Regions from separate parts of the Homo sapiens genome. Here all the other regions are linked to region 4. Evidence: fine-mapped expression QTL. A gene starts in region 4. Each other region holds a variant in brackets. All regions are shown on one strand. Distances are between the middles of the regions. Region 1 overlaps WDTC1 (WD and tetratricopeptide repeats 1). Region 2 overlaps WDTC1 (WD and tetratricopeptide repeats 1). Region 3 overlaps WDTC1 (WD and tetratricopeptide repeats 1). Region 4 holds the start of MAP3K6 (mitogen-activated protein kinase kinase kinase 6).

The links. PIP is the estimated chance that this variant, and not a neighbour inherited with it, causes the effect. A credible set is the group of variants that fine-mapping cannot tell apart.
Region 1: its variant is the best candidate, but not a certain one, in a credible set for the expression of MAP3K6 in fibroblasts (GENCORD, PIP 0.67).
Region 2: its variant is the best candidate, but not a certain one, in a credible set for the expression of MAP3K6 in whole blood (INTERVAL, PIP 0.79).
Region 3: its variant is the best candidate, but not a certain one, in a credible set for the expression of MAP3K6 in whole blood (TOPMed, PIP 0.65).

The regions. Positions count from the first base shown.
Region 1 is chr1:27,237,100-27,242,245 of GRCh38, reverse strand. The region is part of intron 1 of WDTC1 (WD and tetratricopeptide repeats 1); the gene reads right to left. Among named protein-coding and RNA genes, the nearest start is that of WDTC1, 5.0 kb to the right of the region's middle. The variant G/TG (reference allele first, on the strand shown) is at 2,729.
Region 2 is chr1:27,282,137-27,287,282 of GRCh38, reverse strand. WDTC1 (WD and tetratricopeptide repeats 1) reads right to left here. Exons shown (of 16, transcript NM_001276252.2): 4 at 4,998-5,044; 5 at 3,834-3,945. Among named protein-coding and RNA genes, the nearest start is that of TMEM222, 37 kb to the left of the region's middle. RefSeq lists an enhancer at 1-359 and a silencer at 2,419-2,498. The variant A/T (reference allele first, on the strand shown) is at 2,517.
Region 3 is chr1:27,307,091-27,312,236 of GRCh38, reverse strand. WDTC1 (WD and tetratricopeptide repeats 1) reads right to left here. Exons shown (of 16, transcript NM_001276252.2): 16 at 3,601-5,146. Among named protein-coding and RNA genes, the nearest start is that of TMEM222, 12 kb to the left of the region's middle. RefSeq lists enhancers at 3,405-3,929, 3,930-4,455, 4,456-4,981. The variant C/T (reference allele first, on the strand shown) is at 2,384.
Region 4 is chr1:27,364,368-27,369,513 of GRCh38, reverse strand. It overlaps MAP3K6 (mitogen-activated protein kinase kinase kinase 6), which reads left to right and starts at 2,553. Exons shown (of 29, transcript NM_004672.5): 1 at 2,553-3,256; 2 at 4,602-4,741; 3 at 4,830-4,853; 4 at 5,120-5,146. The coding sequence starts at 2,917. It overlaps FCN3 (ficolin 3), which reads left to right. Exons shown (of 8, transcript NM_003665.4): 8 at 37-404. The coding sequence ends at 278. RefSeq lists enhancers at 1,687-2,628, 2,629-3,572 and silencers at 2,825-2,934, 2,965-3,184, 3,255-3,304, 3,895-3,964.

The DNA.
Region 1 (5,146 bases), 130 kb after region 4:
CAATCCTCCCATCTCACCCTCCCAAAGTGCTAGGGTTACAAGTGTGAACCATCTGGCCAGGCACGGTGGCTCATCCCCGTAATCCCAACACTTTGGGAGGCCAAGGCAGGAGGATCACTGGAGGTCAGGAGTTGGAGACCAGCCTGGCCAACATGGTAAAACCCCGTCTCTACTAAAAATACAAAAATTAGCCAGGCGTGATGGCACACGCCTGTAATCCTAGCTACTCAGGAGGCTGAGGCAAGAGAATCGCTTGAACCCAGGAGCCTGAGGCTGCAGTGAGCCAAGATTGCACCACTGCACTCCATCTTGGGTGACACAGCGAGACTCTCAAAAAAAAAAAAACAAAAAAAAACAGTGTGAGACATCACACCCAGCCACTTGTTTGAGCTTTGTGAAAATTTTTTCTGGATGTTTTCAGAACTTTGTTTTCCAGTGATCATAGCTAATTTTCCTGTCTGCTCTTAGGCCTCACAATTACCTTAAGATAGTGGAAGGAAACAGAGAAAAGGGAGCATATTTTGATAATGCTATACTCTCTCACTATTTAAAAGCATCTGCAGTCTTTAACTTGCATCCTGACAAATCCTGCCACAATTCAAAATATCTCTTGTAGAGAAGGCTCTGGAGTTTCATCCTGTAACTCTACTACTAGCTGCAAGGTCAAGGAAAACTAAACCATTCAAGTTAGAAATGTTTCCTTTCTAACTCAGTGACAGTAGTGTTATATCCAGATGTGTAACTCAAAAGGGAACCAGGTAGGCCATCAGCACCCAAACACTCAGGCCTCAACTATGAAGCTCCCTGACCATGAATGCCTAGCTCCCATTCTCAGGAAGGCCCCCTAAGAGGTTCAAGGATAAGCAGTTTTATAGAATTTGGGGGGTCATGAATAAGGACAAAATTGTACAAAAGTCCTGATCCAAACACTGCCCTCAACAGCCTCTGGAGAGCTCCCTGGGCAAGGTCTGATCCTGTTCTCCACCCCATCTCCAAGAAAATGGGGTTAATACCTCCCCAGATGGCTATACGGAGGATTAAGGGTCATTATTCTTGGCACTGAGCTCTGTTACAGCTCTAGCAGTTGTGACCTTGTATCCTAAAAGAAGATAATAAATACAAAAATGCCAACGGTGACCCTCAAATCTGGCTCTGCAGTAGTAGCTGAGAATTTTCTTTGCACAGGGCCTCTGACACTGCCTCCTATACACTCTGGCCTTTTGACTGCATCCTCCCCTTATTCAGGCTTAAAGTTTTTTTGTTTTTTTTTTTTGAGATGGAGTCTCACTGTCACCCAGGCTGGAGTACAGTGTTGCGATCTCAACTCACTGCAACCTCCACCTTCTGAGTTCATGCGATTCTCCTGCCGCAGCCTCCTGAGTAGCTGGGACTACAGACACCCGCCACCACGCCAGGCTAATTTTTGTATTTTTAGTAGAGACAGGGTTTCACCACCTTGGCCAGGCTGGTCTCAAACTCCTGACCTTGTGATCCGCCCACCTCAGCCTCCCAAAGTTCTGGGATTACAGGCATGAGCCACTGCGCCCAGCCCAGGCTTAAAAGTTTTTAAGGTATTAGTCTTCAATGCCACAAAGCCCTTCAAGGAGTCAGCAGCTATTACTTAATAGCTCAAAGAATGGGCCCTAGAACTCTCAGAGTTACACATAGGCCTGAATTTACCCAGAAGAAGCCAACTAAGTGGTATTCCTTTACATCCAAGCCCTGGCTCTTGAGGGCAATCAGTGAGGTCTAGTAAAAAGGATATATTTCATCATTTAGTCCTCAAAAACCCACTAAAAAGTAGGTACTACAATAAGCCTCATTTTATAGGTGAAACTATAGCTCTGAGAGGATACATGATTGGCCCTAGGTCACAGAGCTAAGGAGGAGACATGGGTTCAAATATCAGCCCTACACTACTAGTTGTGTAACCTCCAGCATATTCCTTAACTTTAGTCTAGAGTCTCAGTTTCTCATTTGTAAAGTGGGGATAATGGTAATACCTTCCTTCCAGGGGAGCTCTGAAGATTATAAGAGACATTATAGAAAAAGTAGAGCTGGGCCTGGTGGCTCATGCCTGTAATCCCAGCACTTTGGGGGGCCAAGGTGAGTGGATCACCTGAGGTCAGGAATTCGAGACCAGCTTGGCCAACATGGTGAAACCCCATCTCTACTAAAAAAATACAAAAATTATCCAGGCATGGTGGCGCGCACCTATAATCTCAGCTACTCAGAAGGCTGAGGCAGGAGAATTGCTTGAACCTAGGAGGCGGAGGTTGCAGTGAGCAGAGATCGTGTGCACTCCAGCCTGGGCAATAAGAGCAAAACTCTGTCTTAAAAAAAGAAAGAAAAAGTATCTAGCAAGTGCCTGGTATATACTAAATATTCAATACATGTTAGTTTTTTTGGGTTTTTTTGGTTTTTTTTTTTTTTTTGAGACAGAGTCTCACTCTGTCCCCCAGGCTGGAGTGCACACGATCTTGGCTCACTGCAACCTCTGCGTCCCAGGTTCAAGCAATTCTCATGACTCAGCCTCCCAAGTAGCTGGGATTACAGGTGTGCACCACCACGGCTGGCTAATTTTTTGTATTTTTAGTAGAGACAGGTTTGCCATGTTGCCCAGGCTGGCCTCCAACTCCTGAGCTCTGCCCACATCAGCTTCCCAAAGTGCTAGGATTACAGGCATGAGCCACTGCACAACTGGCTTTTTTTTTTTTTTTTTTTTTTT[G/TG]AGACAGGGTCTCTGTTGCCCATGCTGGAGTTCAGTAGCGCAGTCTTGGCTCACTGCAACCTCTGCCTCCTGCACTCAAGTGATGCCCCCGCCTCAGATTCCTGGGTAGATGGGAATACAGGCACATGCTACCACACCTGGCTAATTTTTAAATTTTCTTTTTGTAGAGACTGGGTTTCACTATGTTGCTCAGGCTGGTCTCAAACTCCTGGGCTCAAGCAATCCACCCACCTAGGCCTCCCAAAGTGCTGGGATTACAGGTGTGAGCCACCGTGCCAAGCCATGTTAGGTTTTACAGATCAAACAGACAGGGAGGCTGGGCATGGTGGCTCACACCTGTATTCCCAGGACTTTGGGAGGCTGAGGTAGGCAGACTGCTTGAGCCCAGGAGTTTGAGACCAGCCTGAGCAACATAGTGAAACCCCATCTCTATGAAAAAATTAAAAAATTAGCCAGGCGTGATGGCACACACCTGTCTTCCCATCTACCCTGTCTCATAAAAAAAAAAAAAAAAAAAAAGCCAGGAGCGGTGGCTCATGCCTGTAATCCTAGCACTTTGGGAGACCGAGGCAGGTGGAACTCAGGAGTTCAAGACCAGCCTGGGCAACATGGCAAAACCCTGTCTCTAATAAAAATACAAAAAAATTAGCCGGGGCTGGGCGCGGTGTCTCACACCTGTAATCCCAGCACTTTGGGAGGCTGAGGCGGGCGGATCACCTGAGGTCAGGAGTTCAAGACCAGTCTGGTCAACATGGTGAAACCCCATCTCTACAAAAATACAAAAATTAGATGGGCGTGGTGGTACATGCCTATAATTCCAGCTACTTGGGAGGCTGAGGCATGAGAATCACTTGAACCTGGGAGGCAGAGGTTGCAGTGAGCCGAGATCATGCCACTGCACTCCAGCCTGGAAGATGAAGTGAGGCATGGGAATCACTTGAACCTGGGAGGCAGAGGTTGCAGTGAGCTGAGATCATGCCACTGCACTCCAGCCTGGATGACGAAGTAAGACTCTGTCTCAAAGAAAAAAAAAAGATGTGGCAAACTCTCTGCTTGAATATCTGCAATGATGGGTAACTCACTCCCTCACAAGGCAGCCCATTTTGTTTTTAGAAAGCTACATTATCTCCTATCAAACCAAAGTCTACCTTCTTGGAAATTATGTCATTTAATCCTGAGATGCCTTCTAGAATCACAGAGAACATCCAGTTTCCTTTCCCCATGACAATCTTCAAGTATTTGAATGAGGTATCATGTTCCCCCAGGCTCTTAGCCTTGGTCTTTTCAGTTCTTCTTCATGTGTCACAGTCCCAGAGGCAATTCAATATCACAGAGCAGAGAGACCTGGGTTTGAATTCCAGTCCTTCCTCTTACTTGCTGTGTGACCTTAAGCAAATAACTTAATTTCTCTGAATCTGTTTCTTCATAGGTATAATAGGGAAAATGATTCTCACCTCACAGGACAGTCATGAAGGTTACACTGGATAAAGTAAAAATACTAGCTAGCACTGAGCTCAAGATATACCAGGCCCTGAATAAAATGTCAGTCACTTTTTAGGACATATCCCAACTGGCAAATACCTCTCAAAGTAAATTAACTACACCAAGGAACTGGCTTCTTTCTTTTTTTTCTTTTCTTTTCTTTTTTTTTTTTTTGAGATGGAGTTTCACTTTTGTTGCCCAGGCTGGAGTGCAATGGCACGATCACAGCTCACCGCAACCTCCACCTCCTGGGTTCAAGCGATTTTCCTGCCTTAGTAGGAAAATCCCTCCTGAGTAGCTGGGACTACAGGCGCGTGCCACCATGCCCGGCTAATTTTTTTTGTATTTTTAGTAGAGATGGGGTTTCACCGTGTTAGCCAGGATGGTCTCAATCTCCTGACCTCGTGATCTGCCCACCTCAGCCTCCCAAAGTGCTGGGATTACAGGCGTGAGCCACCGCGCTCAGCCAGGAACTGGTTTCTAATAGCAACTGCCAGAACTTTGGCTTTTCAAGAGATGACAGCTAAGAAAGTACAACCTAAGGGTTTTGTGGGCCCAGCAATCTGCAATGGCAGCCTAAAGATACAGTGGAGCATCTGGAAAGGTGAGGTGGAAAGAAGAAAGGAAACAGAATAGATAACTAAACCAGTGACCCAAAGAAAACACAAGTATCACCAGATTACATGTTCTGTTTGACTTCCTCTCTGAGACTCAGAACTGCACATGTCAGCAACATTCCTTAATTTTTAAAAAGAGAGAAGAGAGTGGTCACGGAGGCCGTGTCTGTAGTCCCAGCTACTAGGAAGGCAGAGGTACGAGAATCCCTTGAGCTCAGGAGTTTGAGACCAGCCCAGGCAACAGAGTGAGACCCCATCTCAAAAAAATAAAAATAAAAGGAGAGGCCAGGTGCGGTGGCTCACACCTGTAATCCCAGCA
Region 2 (5,146 bases), 82 kb after region 4:
TTGCCTCATTATGACTACTTAGTAACCTAGAGATTAAGTAATAAATTAGTCCTGAAGTGAAAAAGACTTTGAGTGTTTAAGGGAATGGGTGTGTGTGGGTTTTTTTTGTTTTTTTTTTTTGAGACAGCGTCTCGCTCTGTCACCCAGGCTGGAGTGCAGTGGTGCAATCTCGGCTCACTGCAACTTCCACCTCCCGGGTTCAAGCGATTCTCCTGTGTCAGCCTCCTGAGTAGCTGGGATTACAGGTGTGCACCACCACGCCCAGCTAATTTTTGTATTTTTAGTAGAGACAGGGTTTCACCATGTTGGCCAGGCTGGTCTCGAACTCCTGACCTCAGGTGATCCACCTGCCTTGGCCTCCCAAAGTGCTGGGATTGTAGGCATGAGCCAGAATGCCCTGTTGGGAGTGAGTGTTTTAAATTAGTTTGACTGCTTCTGAAAAACAATCTGGTAATAGTAACAAAGATTAAAAACAATTTCTAGTTTTTGACTCAAAACTTCCACTTCCAAGAAATAATCCAGGCCAGGCGTGGTGGCTCATGCCTATAATCCCAGCACTTTGGGAGGCTGAGGCGGGCAGATCACAAGGTCAGGAGATCCAGACCATCCTGGCTAACACGGTGAAACCCCGTCTCTACTAAAAATATAAAAAAATTAGCCGGGCGTGCGCCTGTAGTCCCAGCTACTCGGGAGGCTGAGGCAGGAGGATGGTGTGAACCCAGGAGGCAGAGCTTGCAGTGAGCTGAGATCACGCCACTGCACTCCAGCCTGGGCAACAGAGCGAGACTCCATCTCAAAAAAAAAAAAAAAAAAAAGGAAATAATCCAAAAAGAAAAAAGGGACCTGGTCAGAAATGCTTGGATGCCTCTTATAATAGCAAATATTGGAAACAGCTCAAATGTTGGACAATAGGGAAGGGCTGAGCATCAAGAGGATACATCTCTATGCAGTATTTATTAAAAAAAAAAACAAAAAAAACCGGCCAGGTGCCGTGGCTCACACCTGTAATCCCAACACTTTGGGGGGCCGAGGTAGGCGGATTACCTGAGGTCAGGAGTTTGAGACCACCCTGGCCAACATGGTGAAACCCCGTCTTTACTACAAAAAAAATTAGCCGGATGTGGTGGTGTGCACCTGTAATCCCAGCTGCTCGGAAGGTTGAAGCAGGAGAATCACTTGAAGCCGGGAGGTGGAGGTTGCAGTGAGCTGAGATGGCATCACTGCACTCCAGCATGGGTGACAGAGCAAACAAGACTCCATCTCAAAAAAAAAAAAAAAAAAAAAAACCACCATCCTGATAAAGGCAAGAACAAAATACTCCAGATGACATCTGATAAGAAAAAAACAGCTGCAACCATAGCTTCAAATAATGAAAAAAGAAAGTATGCAGTTCTGGGCTGGGCGCTGTGGCTCGCACCTGTAATCCCAGCACTTTGGGAGGCGGAGGCAGGTGGATCACCTGAGGTCGGGAATTCAAGATCAGCCTTACCAACATGGAGAAACCCTGTCTCTACTAAAAATACAAAAAATTAGCCGGGTGTGGTGGTGTATGCCTGTAGTCCCAGCTACTCGGGAGGCTGAGGCAGCGGTGAGCCGAGATCTTGCCACTGTACTCCAGCCTGGGCAACAAGAGCGAGACTCTGTCTCAAAAAAAAAAAAAGAAAAGAAACAAGAAAGAAAGTATGTAGTTCTATCACATAACTTTGAGGATAAAAAATATTTGGGAGTGGTGTTGAATTCTCGTGTGAGTTCAAAAAATTGAAATATCTTTTTTTTAAAATTGAAAAGTTCCTCCCTACCCACAACAAGGCTGAGTGGTAGTGTTGGGGGAGGGGCAATGTCCTACACTGAAACAGCTGATGTCCCACTTGACTTTAAATGTTCACAAAGAACAACAATTCACTCTTTCCACATAGGCTTCTCTAAGGGCCATTAGAACAAGGTCTAGCCAGGCACTGTGGCTCATGCCTGTAATCCCAACACTTTGGGAGGCTTAGGTGGGTGGATAACCTGAGGTCAGGAGTTCGAAACTGGCCTGGCCAACATGGTGAAACCCTATCTCTACTAAAAATACAAAAATCTGCCAGGTGTGGTGGTGCACACCTGTAATCCCAGCTACTTAGGAGGCTGAGGCACAAGAATCGCTTGAACCCAGAGGCGGAGGTTGCAGTGAGCCAAGATTGTGCCAACTGCACTCCAGCCTGGGCGACATTCAGAGTAAGACTCACCCTCAAAAAAAAAAAAAAAAAAAAAAGACCAAGGTCTAGATGAAATAGACATGATTTAATTATTTTAGGGACAACCAGTAGTCTTTAATCCTGTCTAGAGACGGCATACACTCAATGCACAGCAGAAATAAACTGGGGAGCCCTTGTCATGATCTTGTGGCTGCTGCCACACGCATCACACACCATAGTCACCACCAGGGGGAGCGCATGAGTTAAATACATATACATCTGCAGTGTTTCCACTACCTAAAGAAAGAAGAATCCTTTTCAGGTTGTTTTTTTTTTTTT[A/T]AATAGAAGAGGAGGCTGACAGTCTGCATGTAAGTGCCGTTCCCAAGGTCTTACCGTTAGGGAGTATCAAGACCATTATGAAATTCTGGTGTTAGAAATCAATGTCTTGTGCTCTGATGCTAAACTAATGGCTTAGGTCCCCTTCCCCAGGCCTGACTGTGCAGACTAAAATTGGACCTAAACTCTTTGCAGGGGAAGAAAGCAGTTTCCGTTAGTCATATAAGAGGTAAATCATCATTGTTCTGTCTCTAAAGGCGAGAATCATAGCTTGAGAAGAAAAAAGGGTTTAGGAAAACAAGTAGGTTTGGAGCTATCATCTTGTTCAGGTATCTTGTAATTCCTCTTGATATTAATTACGAAAATATTTCTTAGAATAGTGAGGGTTTCCGAAGGACAACTTCATTCTCACATCTATCCATTATAGAATCTCAGAGCTGGAAAGGCCCTTCCTTGCAGGCCATTTCTTCCAACTTTAAATCTTGGAGATAAAGCACCTGGCGAGTGGACAAGTGCAGGGATAGGACATTTACTCATCTCCTCCAGGGGCCCATTCTACATTTTTCAAAGAGCTCTAAGCATTAGACAGTTCTTTCTTTCCTCAGGCCCACATTTAATTCTGTGGACTTACAGCCACTAGTCCTAGGTCTGTTTTCCACAACAAAAAAACATGTCTCATGTCATTTCCAGGGCTTCAACAGAGCTTCAAAGGTCTGAAGACACTTGTAAGTCCCCTTCTCACCTCTCCTCCGCTCAACTCCCCTCCTCCAACAAATCAAAATATTCATTTCCTATGAAGGGGTAGAACAGATAAAAAGCACTGGGCACAGACTTTATTTTTATCAATTATCTCATTGAACTGTCACATCAACCTTGTAGACTGTTATTTCCTTTTAAAAAAATTAATTTGTTTACAAATCTGGGAGATTTTCCTTCGCTGCTTCCTTTTTTACAGATGAGCAAACAGGCTCAGACAGGTCAGGTGATTTGCCCAGGTCACACAATGCCCAAGAAGCAGATAAGGGAGTCAAACCCAGGTATGCCTGCTCTCTAAGTTCACGTTCAGAACCATACCCCCACCACTACCATTCACATAAAGATAAATTCATCTAGAATTGGCCGCTTAGCTCTAAAAGAGGAAGAAGAACATGGAAGAGAAATGAGGTTTCAGGAATCACCAACAGATACTTAGATCATAAGGTTGTCTGTGACCCTAGACGGTATATGGGACACACACATACCAACATGGCGTGGCCACAGCCCAGTCACTCTTGTGCTTGATCTGTGGCTTGTGCTTGCTCTGTGGCTTGTCCTGCTCACCTTGACAGAGAAGATATTTGCGGTGTGTCCCGTGTGCATGGAGAGCAGCTTCTTGTGGTGCAGCGGGTCCCACACAATCGTGTGCTGGTCATCGGAACCAGAGGCCAGCAAGCTGAAAGCAGAGTGAGGGATTGTGATCTCTCCTCAAATTCCTAGGCTCCCTTTCCCCATCCCATGTTCTCAGTTTACAAGGAGTTAGGTTACAGAATTTGAAGAACAGTAAATGTCACAGAATTTAAGGTTGCCTTGTAAACAGCTGATTCTCTTCTATTTTGTCCTGAGAAATTTCCATTATTCTTTTTTTTTTTTTTGAAATGGAGTCTCGCTCTGTCCCCCAGGCTGGAAGTGCAGTGGCGCGATCTCGGCTCACTGCAAGCTCCGCCTCCCAGGTTCACGCCATTCTCCTGCCTCAGCCTCCTGAGTAGCTGGGACTACAGGCGCCCGCCACCACACCCGGCTAATTTTTTGTTTTTTTGTAGAGACGGGGTTTCACTGTGTTAGGCAGGATGGTCTCAATCTCCTGACCTCGTGATCCACCCGCCTCGGCCTCCCAAAGTGCTAGGATTACAGGCGTGAGCCACTACGCCCGGCCAAGAAATTTCTATCATTCTTAAACACATTGGCTTATTAAAAAAACAGGGTTTTGGGCCGGGCGCGGTAGTTCATGCCTGTAATCCTAGCACTTTGGGAGGCTGAGGCAGGTGGATTGCCTGAGCTCAGGAGTTTGAGACCAGCCTGGGCAACATGGCAAAACCTCGTCTCTACTAAAAATACAAAAAATTAGCCAGGCATGGTGGCGCATGCCTGTAGTCCCAGTTACTTGGGAGGCTGATTAAGGAGAACCGCTTGAACCTGAAAGGCGGAGGTTGCAGTGAGCCAAGATCACGCCATTGCACTCCAGCCTGGGTGACAGAATGAGACTCTGTCTCTAAAACAAAACAAAACAAAACAAAACAGGGTTTGGATGGTCATCCAACTTTCCATCTATCTGAGATTGTTTAATTGTGTTGAAAATTATGGGCTAAGCTGAAGAACGGCAGACAGCAGCAGTCTCTTTTCATTTGGGTCCAATCTTTTCCTTGGATCCTCTCAGGAGGAGCCTTGCTGTTCCACCCTCCTTACTTCCTTCCCCAGCACCCTTCAGGTGCTCTAGCTCATACTTACTCTCCTTTCTCATTCCACTCCAGACAGTTGACACATCCTGAGTGACCCTGGGGGAGCAAATGAAGAGACAGGAAGAGAGTTGGTTAGGGGTTCTCCTGGGGAACTCAACACCAAGAAGTGGAACTGAACAGGTAAACCAGTCTTTCCAT
Region 3 (5,146 bases), 57 kb after region 4:
TCTCCAATTGAATAAGGTATGCAAGGATTTTTTTTTTTTGTTAAAATAGTGAGAACAAAATAACATTGCAATGTAAGATAAGAGTTGAATGAGCATGCCACTGATGGAGAAAGGGAGGTAATTTTCAAGAATCGGTATTTTTCCCCACAGATATGTTTTGATTGACATCAAGTGGATGTCATTGGCCATTTAATATTTAAAACAGCAAAATGCTTGTGAACATACACCCATTATTTTATGTACAATAAGGGAATGGGTAAGGGAAAAATAAAAGAATAGAGAAAACTATACTATAGTAATAGTCATGATGTGGTGGAACCAAATTGCAGTTTTCTAATTGAGAATGTAATCTTGGTCTATAAGAACAAAGTTCTAGAGTAAAGAAGCAGGTTCCTTTTTCAGTAGACACTTCTTGTCTGTTGCTGAAACACATCAATTGTATCTTCATCCTCCATTTCCAACTGTGCAGGTGTGTCTGTTTCATTGACTGGTTGCCTGTCAAATTAGAATCTGATCTGCCTCACTGACAAACTCTGTCATTCACAATAGACTTTCATTACTCTACTAAGTGGTATATGACTCTTTTTTTTTCTTTTATGAGATGGCATCTCGTTCTGTCACCCAGGCTGGAGGGCAGTGGCGCGATCTCGGCTCACTGCAACCTCCGCCTCCCGGGTTCAAGCAATTCTCCTGCCTCAGCTTCCCAAGTAGCTGAGACTACAGGCACATACCACCATGTCCAGCTATTTTTTTGTATTTTTAGTAGAGACGGGGTTTCACCATATTGGTCAGGCTGGTCTCAAACTCCAGACCTCAGGTGATCCACCCACCTTGGCCTCCCAAAGTGCTGGGATTACAGGTGTGAGCCACCATACCCGGCCGGTATATGACTTTTAATTTTAAACTGCACCATGGAACAATCCTGCCCCATTACCTTCAAATTAATAAGATTGTTATTCTCAGTCTTGACTCCTTCCTTGGGCTTTTCATCAGCCACACGAGTGCTGGAGTCTCCTCAGCTGCTACTTCACCAATGAGGCACCAGGTCTGCACAGAATGAATGAGCACACAAACGGCACCAGGAGAGGCAGAAGGAGGTGGAACAGTGGAACTATTCTGGGTCTGCTACATTTTCATGTAAACTTTAGGATCAGTTGGTGATACTCACAAAATAACTTGCTGGGACTATGACCAGGATCACATTGAAGCTATAGATCAAGTTGGAAAGAACTGACATCCTAATATTGAGTTTTCCTATCCGTGAACATGGACCATCTCTCCATTTACTTGATCTTCCTTGGTTTCTTTTATCAGTTTTGTAGTTTTGCTCATACAAACCTTGTACATATGTTGTTAGATTTATTCCTAAGTACTTTTTTGGGGGGATGCTAATGAGGGCTGAATACGTGGAGGACAAGGTGCTTTTAGAACAGTGAAACTATTCTGTATGACAATGTAATGGTGGATACGAGACATGCATTTGTCAAAACCCATAGAACTTTGCAACACAAAGAGTGAACCGTAATGTAAACTATGGACTTCAGTTATCATAATGTATCAATATTGGTTCATTAATTACAACAACACACTAATGCAAGATGTTAATAATTGGGAAAATTGAGCTGGGGAAAGAGGGTTATATGAAACTCATTATACTATCTGCTCAATTTTCTGTAAGCCTAAAACTGCTCTAGAAAGTAAAGGCTATTAATTTTTTAAAAAATGGAGTACCAACTCCAAATGAAATGGAGACCCTCGTGAAGTCTTCCAATGCCTCCCTTGCCTACAGGATTGAGTCTGTGGTCTCTCACCAGCCATAGGAAGTCCTTCAGTTTGACTGCTCCTCCAGTCTACCCTCTACAATCCAGCCAGATGGAGTCACTCAGGGTTCATGAAGGAACCTGAGACTCTGCACTACTCCCTGGTCTGGAACATTGTCCTTCCTTTGTCTGGTCTGGAAATGCCTTCAAGAAGCTTCTGCAGACGTTAATTTGGGTACACAGAGGAATGATACCAGCCCACAGTATCTGTTTTATAATACCACCTATTGTGTTTCCGGCAGGACCTCTCAGTAGTTTCAGTAGTGGAACTGCTATTCCCACAGACTAAACCATAGTTCCCCAACTGTGCATCAAGGTGCCTGAGGGCACCCACAGCAAATTCACAGGGGGCAAAGTAGGATATTTTGAAAGATATTCAACATCTTTGGCTAATGAGAGAACTATTAGCTCAAGGTAGTTCACAGTTCCATTATTACATTATGCCACAATCCTTTTGATGATGTCATCTTTAAGAAGCTGGGTCTTGGCCGGGCGCAGTGGCTCATGCCTGTAATCCCAGCACTTTGGGAGGCCGAGGCGGGTGGACCACAAGGTCAGGAGAG[C/T]GAGACCATCTTGGCTAACGTGGTGAAACCCCATCTCTACTAAAAACATAAAAAATAAGCCAGGTCTGGTGGCAGCTGCCTGTAGTCCCAGCTACTCAGGAGGCTGAGGCAGGAGAATGGCATGAACTCAGAAGGTGGAGCTTGCGGTGAGCCGAAATCGCACCACTGCACTCCAGCCTGGGCAACAGAGCAAGACTCCGCCTCAAAAAAAAAAAAAAAAAAAAAAAAGAAGCTGGGTCTTTAGTGGTTGCTGTGATAAAAAGCAAATGAAAATCAATGTGGGACAGGAAATGAAGGCAGCAGTGTTTGCTTTGATTAGAAAATTTAACAAGTTGTTCAGTGCCCAATGGGCAGCATAGATCCCATTAGTAATTGCAGTTGTTTAAGAATGAAGGCTGGGCGCGGTGGCTCACACCTGTAATCCCAGCACTTTGGGAGGTTGAGGCGGGCAGATCACCTGAGGTCAGGAGTTTGAGACCAGCCTGGCCAAGGTGGTGAAACCCCATCTCTGCTAAAAATACAAAAAATTAGCTGGGTGTGGTGGCGGGCACCTGTAATCCCAGCTACTTGGGAGGCTGAGGCAGGAGAATCGCTTGAACCCAGGAGGCGGAGGTTGCAGTGAGCCGCAATTGCACAATTGCACTCCAGCCTGGGCGACAAAAACGAAACTGTCTCAAAAAAAAAATAAAAAATAAAAAATAAATAAAAATGCAAAAAAAAAAAAATAGCTGGGCATGGTGGCACATGCCTGTAATCCCAGCTACTTGGGAGGCTGAGGTAGGAGAATCACTTGAACCCGGGAGGCGGTGGTTGCAGTGAGCTGAGATCATGCCACTGCACTCCAGCCTGGGCAACAGAGCAAGACTCCGTCTCAAAAAAAAAAAAAAAAAAAAAGAATGAAATAAATATTGTTTCTTCCAATTCAGGTGTATTATTTTTTAAATGGCAACTAACTTGTTAGGACATAAATACTTTTTAAGTGATTTGGACTTAACTACTTAATAAATTGAACTGTTATTTCTTTTGGCTTAGAGGCTCCATGAAAAAATTACTGAGATGGTAATGGTGCTGTGAGCTAAGAAAGTTCAGGAACCTATAGTCTAAGAGATTATCTAATCCAGGGCACTTCAAAAACTTGCATATGTGAAATCAATTTAGTGGGTTATAGCCATATTTTTTTCCCTAATAAAACAGAAGGGTAAGCAGAGTACACTGCATGTAGCAAGGGTAAATATTATTGTGTAAAACTTTTGTTCATTTTTTTTATATATATATACACACACACATATCTACAAGTAATCATGTGTATATTGGGTCACAATGTAAAATGGTTTGAAAAACCACTAAGATTCCAAGTCCCTTATTTTACTGATGAGAAAACAGCCAGAGAGTGAAAGCTGATGATTACAAATCACAGCCATGAGAGCTGGGCTCTGCACTCAGCCCTGCTGGGCTGGGTGGCCGCTGCTCACGGTGACCCTTCAAGGCAGGCCTCATTCTGTCCAGTAGAGGTGTGGTTACTAAGTCATAGAGCTACAGAGGTGAGGGACCAGGTGCCCTCACTTTGGTTCCAAGACCCATCTGCACCCCACAAATGCCACCAGCCACACCTAGAACAAAATGGTTTTAATCAATTGCGTCACCCTCACTCTCCTGGGAGCGGAGCAACAAAAAGGCTCGGCTCCTGCCCCCAGAGGACAGTAAGGCTTATGTGTCTCTCCACACTGCAGGGCCCAGGCTGGGCAGGCAGGGGGTGGGAAGCAGGACAGGGGGCAGGGAGGGAGGGTGGGAGGCAGGGAGGAAATGGCAGGTGGCTGGAACACAAGAAAGCAAAGGGGACCCAGCTGGTCCTTGGGCCCCAGGGCCCAGCCCCAATACTCCTGCTCTCCCTTCTCCCTGGCTAGAGAAAGGTCACGGAGAAGAGACAGGGGAGCAGGTCCCAGCAGCAGGAGAAGCAGCAGCAGCTGTTTCCTTCACCAATAAATATACTTCATTACCAAGCTAGAAGAGAGGGGTGGGAAGAGGGACTGGGGTGGGAAGGAAGGGGGAGAAGCTGCCACCTGTGTTGCTGGGATTAAAGCAATGAGATGGTGCCAGACCCCCCACCACTATCCTCACCCTCCACTTGTCTTCTTAAAACTGTGAAAAAGCTTTTAACATGGCCCTCCTGTCTCCAGGGCTGCTCTGAAGCCTGACTGAGAGGAGGCACCTGGCAGAGACAGGGGCTGAGGGAGGGAGCGAGGGAGTGGAGGGAGAGGAGAAGGGAGGCTGCTTTTCCCCAGGGGCTGCAGCTGGAGGGCTGGAGCCAAGTAAGCACTGAAGGGGAAGCAGGGAGGGAGAGAGGGGGAAGGATGAACCAACTACCTGGAGCAGCTGGAGCTAAGAGCCGGGGGCAGAGGGGAGGAGAGGCCTGGTGAGTGGTGGGTTGATCGCTGCATCCAGTGTAAAGCTTGGGGCTGCTGGGGAGGGAGGGGCCGAGTAAGGGACTTTCCCATCTGAGTGGCTCAGGAGACCCACCCCTCTCCCCTCAGAGCAGCAGGGGACAGAGAAAAGCCATCACTTCTTTGGTCTTTGTGGCGGCTCAGCATGTGGGATGGGAAGGAGGGCAGAAAGGGCAGAGAAGGGCCCTTAGCAGGAAGCGCCACCTCAGCAGAGTAGGCCTGGCTGGGAGCTCTGGCAGAAAGGTCACAGTGAGGCTGAGGAGCGCCCAAGAGGAGAATGGCCGTAGTGCAGAAGTGCTGGCATGGATGGGTGGGGTAAGGT
Region 4 (5,146 bases):
TGGGCACCAAGGTGCTTTCCATCCCTTCCCTGCTAGGGGATTCCCTGAGCCTCCACAGTGGGAGGCCCTTTACCACCTATGACGCTGACCACGATTCAAGCAACAGCAACTGTGCAGTGATTGTCCACGGTGCCTGGTGGTATGCATCCTGTTACCGATCAAATCTCAATGGTCGCTATGCAGTGTCTGAGGCTGCCGCCCACAAATATGGCATTGACTGGGCCTCAGGCCGTGGTGTGGGCCACCCCTACCGCAGGGTTCGGATGATGCTTCGATAGGGCACTCTGGCAGCCAGTGCCCTTATCTCTCCTGTACAGCTTCCGGATCGTCAGCCACCTTGCCTTTGCCAACCACCTCTGCTTGCCTGTCCACATTTAAAAATAAAATCATTTTAGCCCTTTCAAGACTCTTCCAGTTACTGGGAAAAAACCCTAGAGGGCAGAGCAGGGACACAAGTTTCAGCTCCATTCAGGGAAGAATTTCCTTCCAGTCAGGAAGATGGAAAGGACAGCCTCTAAAGTAGTGAGGCTTCTGTCTCTGGAGGTGTGCAAGACAAGGCCAGAGGGGCATATAGTGGAAGGACTGGAGGAGATTCAAGCATCCATTGACAATTTCCTGAGGCTCTCTGGGTCCTGCAAGTGGATGGCTTTGTGGCAGGAATTGCACAATTGCACAGCTTTTTTGTTTGTTTGTTTGTTTGTTTGTTTTTGAGACGCAGTCTCGCTCTGTCGCCCAGGCTGGAGTGCAGTGGCACCATCCTGGCTCACTGCAAGCTCTGCCTCCCAGGTTCACGCCATTCTCCTGCCTCAGCCTCCCGAGTAGCTGGAACTACAGGCACCCGTTACCACGCCCGGCGAATTTTTTGTATTTTTAGTAGAGACGGGGTTTCATCATGTTAGCCAGGATGGTCTCAATCTCCTGACCTCATGATCTGCCCTCCTCGGCCTCCCAAAGTGCTGGGATTACAGGTGTGAGCCACTGCGCCCGGCCGCTTTTTTTTTTTTTTTTTTTTTGAGATGGAGTCTTGCTCTGTCGCCCTGCCCAGGCTGGAGTGCAATGAGCCAGAGGGGCATACAGTGGAAGGATTAGAGGAGATCCAAGCATCCATTGACAATTTCCCGAGGCCCTCTGGGTCCTGCAAGTGGATGGCTTTGTGGCAGGAATTGCACAATTGCATAGCTTTTTTTTTTTTTGAGATGGAGTCTTGCTCTGTCGCCCCGCCCAGGCTGGAGTGCAATGGCACGATCTCCACTCACCGCAACCTCCATCTCCCAGGTTCAAGTGATTCTCCTGCCTCAGCTCCCAAGTAGCTGGGATCACAGGCAGGTGCCACCACACCCAGCTACTTTTTTTTGTATTTTTAGTAGAGACGGGGTTTCACCATGTTGGCCAGGCTGGTCTCGAACTCCTGACCTCGTGATCCACTCATCTTGGCCTCCCAAAGTGGGATTACAGGCATGAGCCACCGCCCTGGCTGGGAATTGCACAGCTTTCTCAGCCTGTCGGTTGCCCATGCCTGTCCTTTGTAAGTTGTCTGTTTTCCACTCCAGCCTCTGTTGCAGGCCAAGTTCTCAAACTCTACCACTTCCTGCCTATCTCATTGGGTGTCAGTTCGAATCCAAGGTCAAACCAAGGAAGGTACCTTTTTCTTCCACAAGGCAACAGGGCAATGAAACAGCCATTGAGTAGCATTTAAGCAGTTTATTTGCCCAAAGCCACATTCTAGTAAGTGGCAGAATTAAATAGTTAAGAGTCTGACAGGCGGTCCTGGGTTTGCACCCTGCTGTCATGTGCTGAGTGATCCTGGACAAGTTATTCAACTTAAGTCCCCAGTTCTTGGTTTCAGGGTCCACTGAGGCTTCTACCAGGTTGCTGCCTCACTCATTAATTCACACAAGAAAGTTGGGGACTCTTGGGGATTTGAAGCTGAGAAGCTGCTGTAGTGCAAAGGGCTGGGGTTGACTCCTTCAAGGGGTGGCTAAAGAAATGTTTAGAGTTGTTTAGAGTAGGAAGTGCTTCTCAGGTCCCATGGCCACGTTCTGCCTAGAAGTCAAAGGTCAGCGGGGGTCCACAGCAGGTTGGGTCCTGGGGAAAGCAGCCCCCTAGTGACAGTTAAGGCTCAGATGCCAAGTCCCACTCCAGGACTGAAGGCTTTCGGGCAAGCGGCCTAGGGTGTAGGTTTCCCCCATCCCAGTCCCTCCCTGCCTGCGCTCACTGGGCCCGGGAGGACACCCATTGTTCATCATGCTCTGCGCACCCTGATGTCTCTAGAGAGCCATTCATTCAACAGATACCTGCAGAGCAGGGCCTGCATATCGAACCTTTTCCCTAGCCCTGGCCTCCTCACACATTTTATGTGCACTTGCTGTGAGCAGTCCACAGTCTTTGGCGTGCACAGGGGCACAGGCTGTTCCGGAAGCCGCCAGTCTCCAAAGTTCTGGCGGGAGAGAAGGGAGGGGAGAGGCTGAGTCTCAAGCCGCTAGGGAGCGGCTCTGCCCCAGGGCCGAGGGTGGAGCTTTCTGGGTCGGCCGGGAAAGGGCTGGGCTTAGCCTACAAGTGAAGGCAGGGCAGCGTTGGCGGGCGCTCCCTTGAGAAGTCCAGGTGGCGGGCACCTCCGAGCCGATTCCCAGGATCCCCCAAGTGGCTCTGAGCTGCCGATCACCGGATGCCCCAGATTCCTGGGACCCAATCCCGGATTTCAGAACCTCAGGACCTTGCAAGTCCGAGCTAGGATTTCTCCCTGGACTTTAGATTCCTGGAACGGGACGTCAGGCCGTATTCCGGATCCCTAGATCCCGTGGGAGATTCTCCGATTCCGAACGGATTCCAGATCCCAAGATTCCTGATCTGCCGGCCCAGGCTCCTGCCCCGCCCCCGGTTCCCAGTGCGCGGCGCCCCGCGCCTGAGCGCCCCCGCATGGCGGGGCCGTGTCCCCGGTCCGGGGCGGAGCGCGCCGGCAGCTGCTGGCAGGACCCGCTGGCCGTGGCGCTGAGCCGGGGCCGGCAGCTCGCGGCGCCCCCGGGCCGGGGCTGCGCGCGGAGCCGGCCGCTCAGCGTGGTCTACGTGCTGACCCGGGAGCCGCAGCCCGGGCTCGAGCCTCGGGAGGGAACCGAGGCGGAGCCGCTGCCCCTGCGCTGCCTGCGCGAGGCTTGCGCGCAGGTCCCCCGGCCGCGGCCGCCCCCGCAGCTGCGCAGCCTGCCCTTCGGGACGCTGGAGCTAGGCGACACCGCGGCTCTGGATGCCTTCTACAACGCGGGTGAGAGCGCTGGGGGCGGGGCCGGATCCGGGCGGGACTCAGGGTCCTGGGAGGGGACCAAGCCGGGCTCGAAGGCTCAAGGGAGGGGCCGAGAGGGGTACCGGGTCTAGGGGACTTAAAGTGAGCTAAAGCTGAAGGGCTTGGGACAGGGCCGTGAAAAAAGTGGGATTTAGGGGATCTGGGGCGCGGCCGGGCTCGGGACGAGACAGGGATCCGGGCGCGGCTCTAGGGCTCGAGGTTGGGGCTTAGGCACCCTTCAGTCGGAGCGGTGCCCAGCCAGCGGGGCAAGGATGGGGAGGGGCTTTGGAACTCTGGGGCGGGGCGGGGAGCGGCGCGGGGCTGTGGTGTCTCAGGGGTGGGGTTGGAGAACTCAGCCTCACCCTCAGGAGAATGTCACGCGGATCTCTTGAGGACAATTACTGGGAGAGGAGCTTGGACTTAGGGAAAGGGGCCGGGAGGCTGGAGTTCAGGAGTCCTAGCATACTATTTCCAAGGATCGGGCTAGGAGAGGCAAAAAGAGAAGCGAAGGGGCCCGACGGGACTGGATACTGGGTGAGGGAGCTTAGGTTAAGTGGCCTCAGCGGCCCAGAAAGAATGGGCGGGGAAGGGGCGGGGAAGTGGGCGGGAAAGGATGGCTCAGGGGCGGGGCCAGAAGGAGGCTATTCCCCCGCGAGTCACTCCTCCCTCCAGCCAGCCCGGATGCTCGGCCCCCATACTTACTTGCTTATGCTAGAGTCCAGTAGCTGTGCTTCCTGGATGTCCATGAAATCGTAGCCTAAAATGAAGGCTGACCCGACCACTCGGACACAAAGATACAATTATCGACAGACACAAATCGCATACATGTTGACTCATGCAGGCCCTAGCAGACGCTGTCACACACACAGATACAGTCAGACATAGTAAGCTATACATGTCACAGATATACACATACATACATTTAGGCACAGCGTTGTCTATGCACACTGATGGTAGCCCCTTTCAAGAGCCTGTGCTGAAGACCAAAGGGAGGGGACTTCTATGTTTGCGCAACTCCCACCTCCTAAATGGCCCGTAACAGACTCAACTGGTCCACAGCCTCCCTTCCCCCATGCCAGGTGCTCACAGGCTCTGAACCGTGGCCTGAGGGTCCCAACCCAGTGAGCCCAACTCCTCTCCTGCAACACTACAGAGATCAGTTCTGTGAAAGTGCCAGGGGAACCCTAAAAAGGGCCGACTGAAGCCCAAAGCAGAACCAGACCCTACTGGAGTCCCACAGCAAGGCAGGTCAAGCCAGGATGGACCCCGGCTCCTTCCCCATCAAGCTGGGCTTCAGGGATCAGCGCCACCCCCTCTGTGCCTGCAGATGTGGTGGTGCTGGAGGTGAGCAGCTCGCTGGTACAGCCCTCCCTGTTCTACCACCTTGGTGTGCGTGAGAGCTTCAGCATGACCAACAATGTGCTCCTCTGCTCCCAGGCCGACCTCCCTGACCTGCAGGCCCTGCGGGTAGGTGGCCTGGGGCTGGTGGAGGCAGGCACAGGGCTGGGGTAAGGCCTACACAGAACACCAGTATCTGACTGTCTGCCTCCTGCAGGAGGATGTTTTCCAGAAGAACTCGGTGAGCAGAATCCACCTCTCACTCAAAAGTGCCCTTTGACTTCCGCTATGACCTCTGACCTCCACTAATCCCCCTGGCCTCCTCAGTCACCTAACCCCCCACTGACATCCCAAGTATTCCTCTGTTTCCTGTTGCCTCCTCTCATGACGGGTGCCCCTTTCCTGCGATTCCAATTCCCACTGATGCTGACCTTTGATGCTCTCACTCCCCTTGTCTAGCCCTGTGCTGACCTCTGACCTCACTGATTCCTGCCTCCCTCCCACCAGGATTGCGTTGGCAGCTACACACTGATC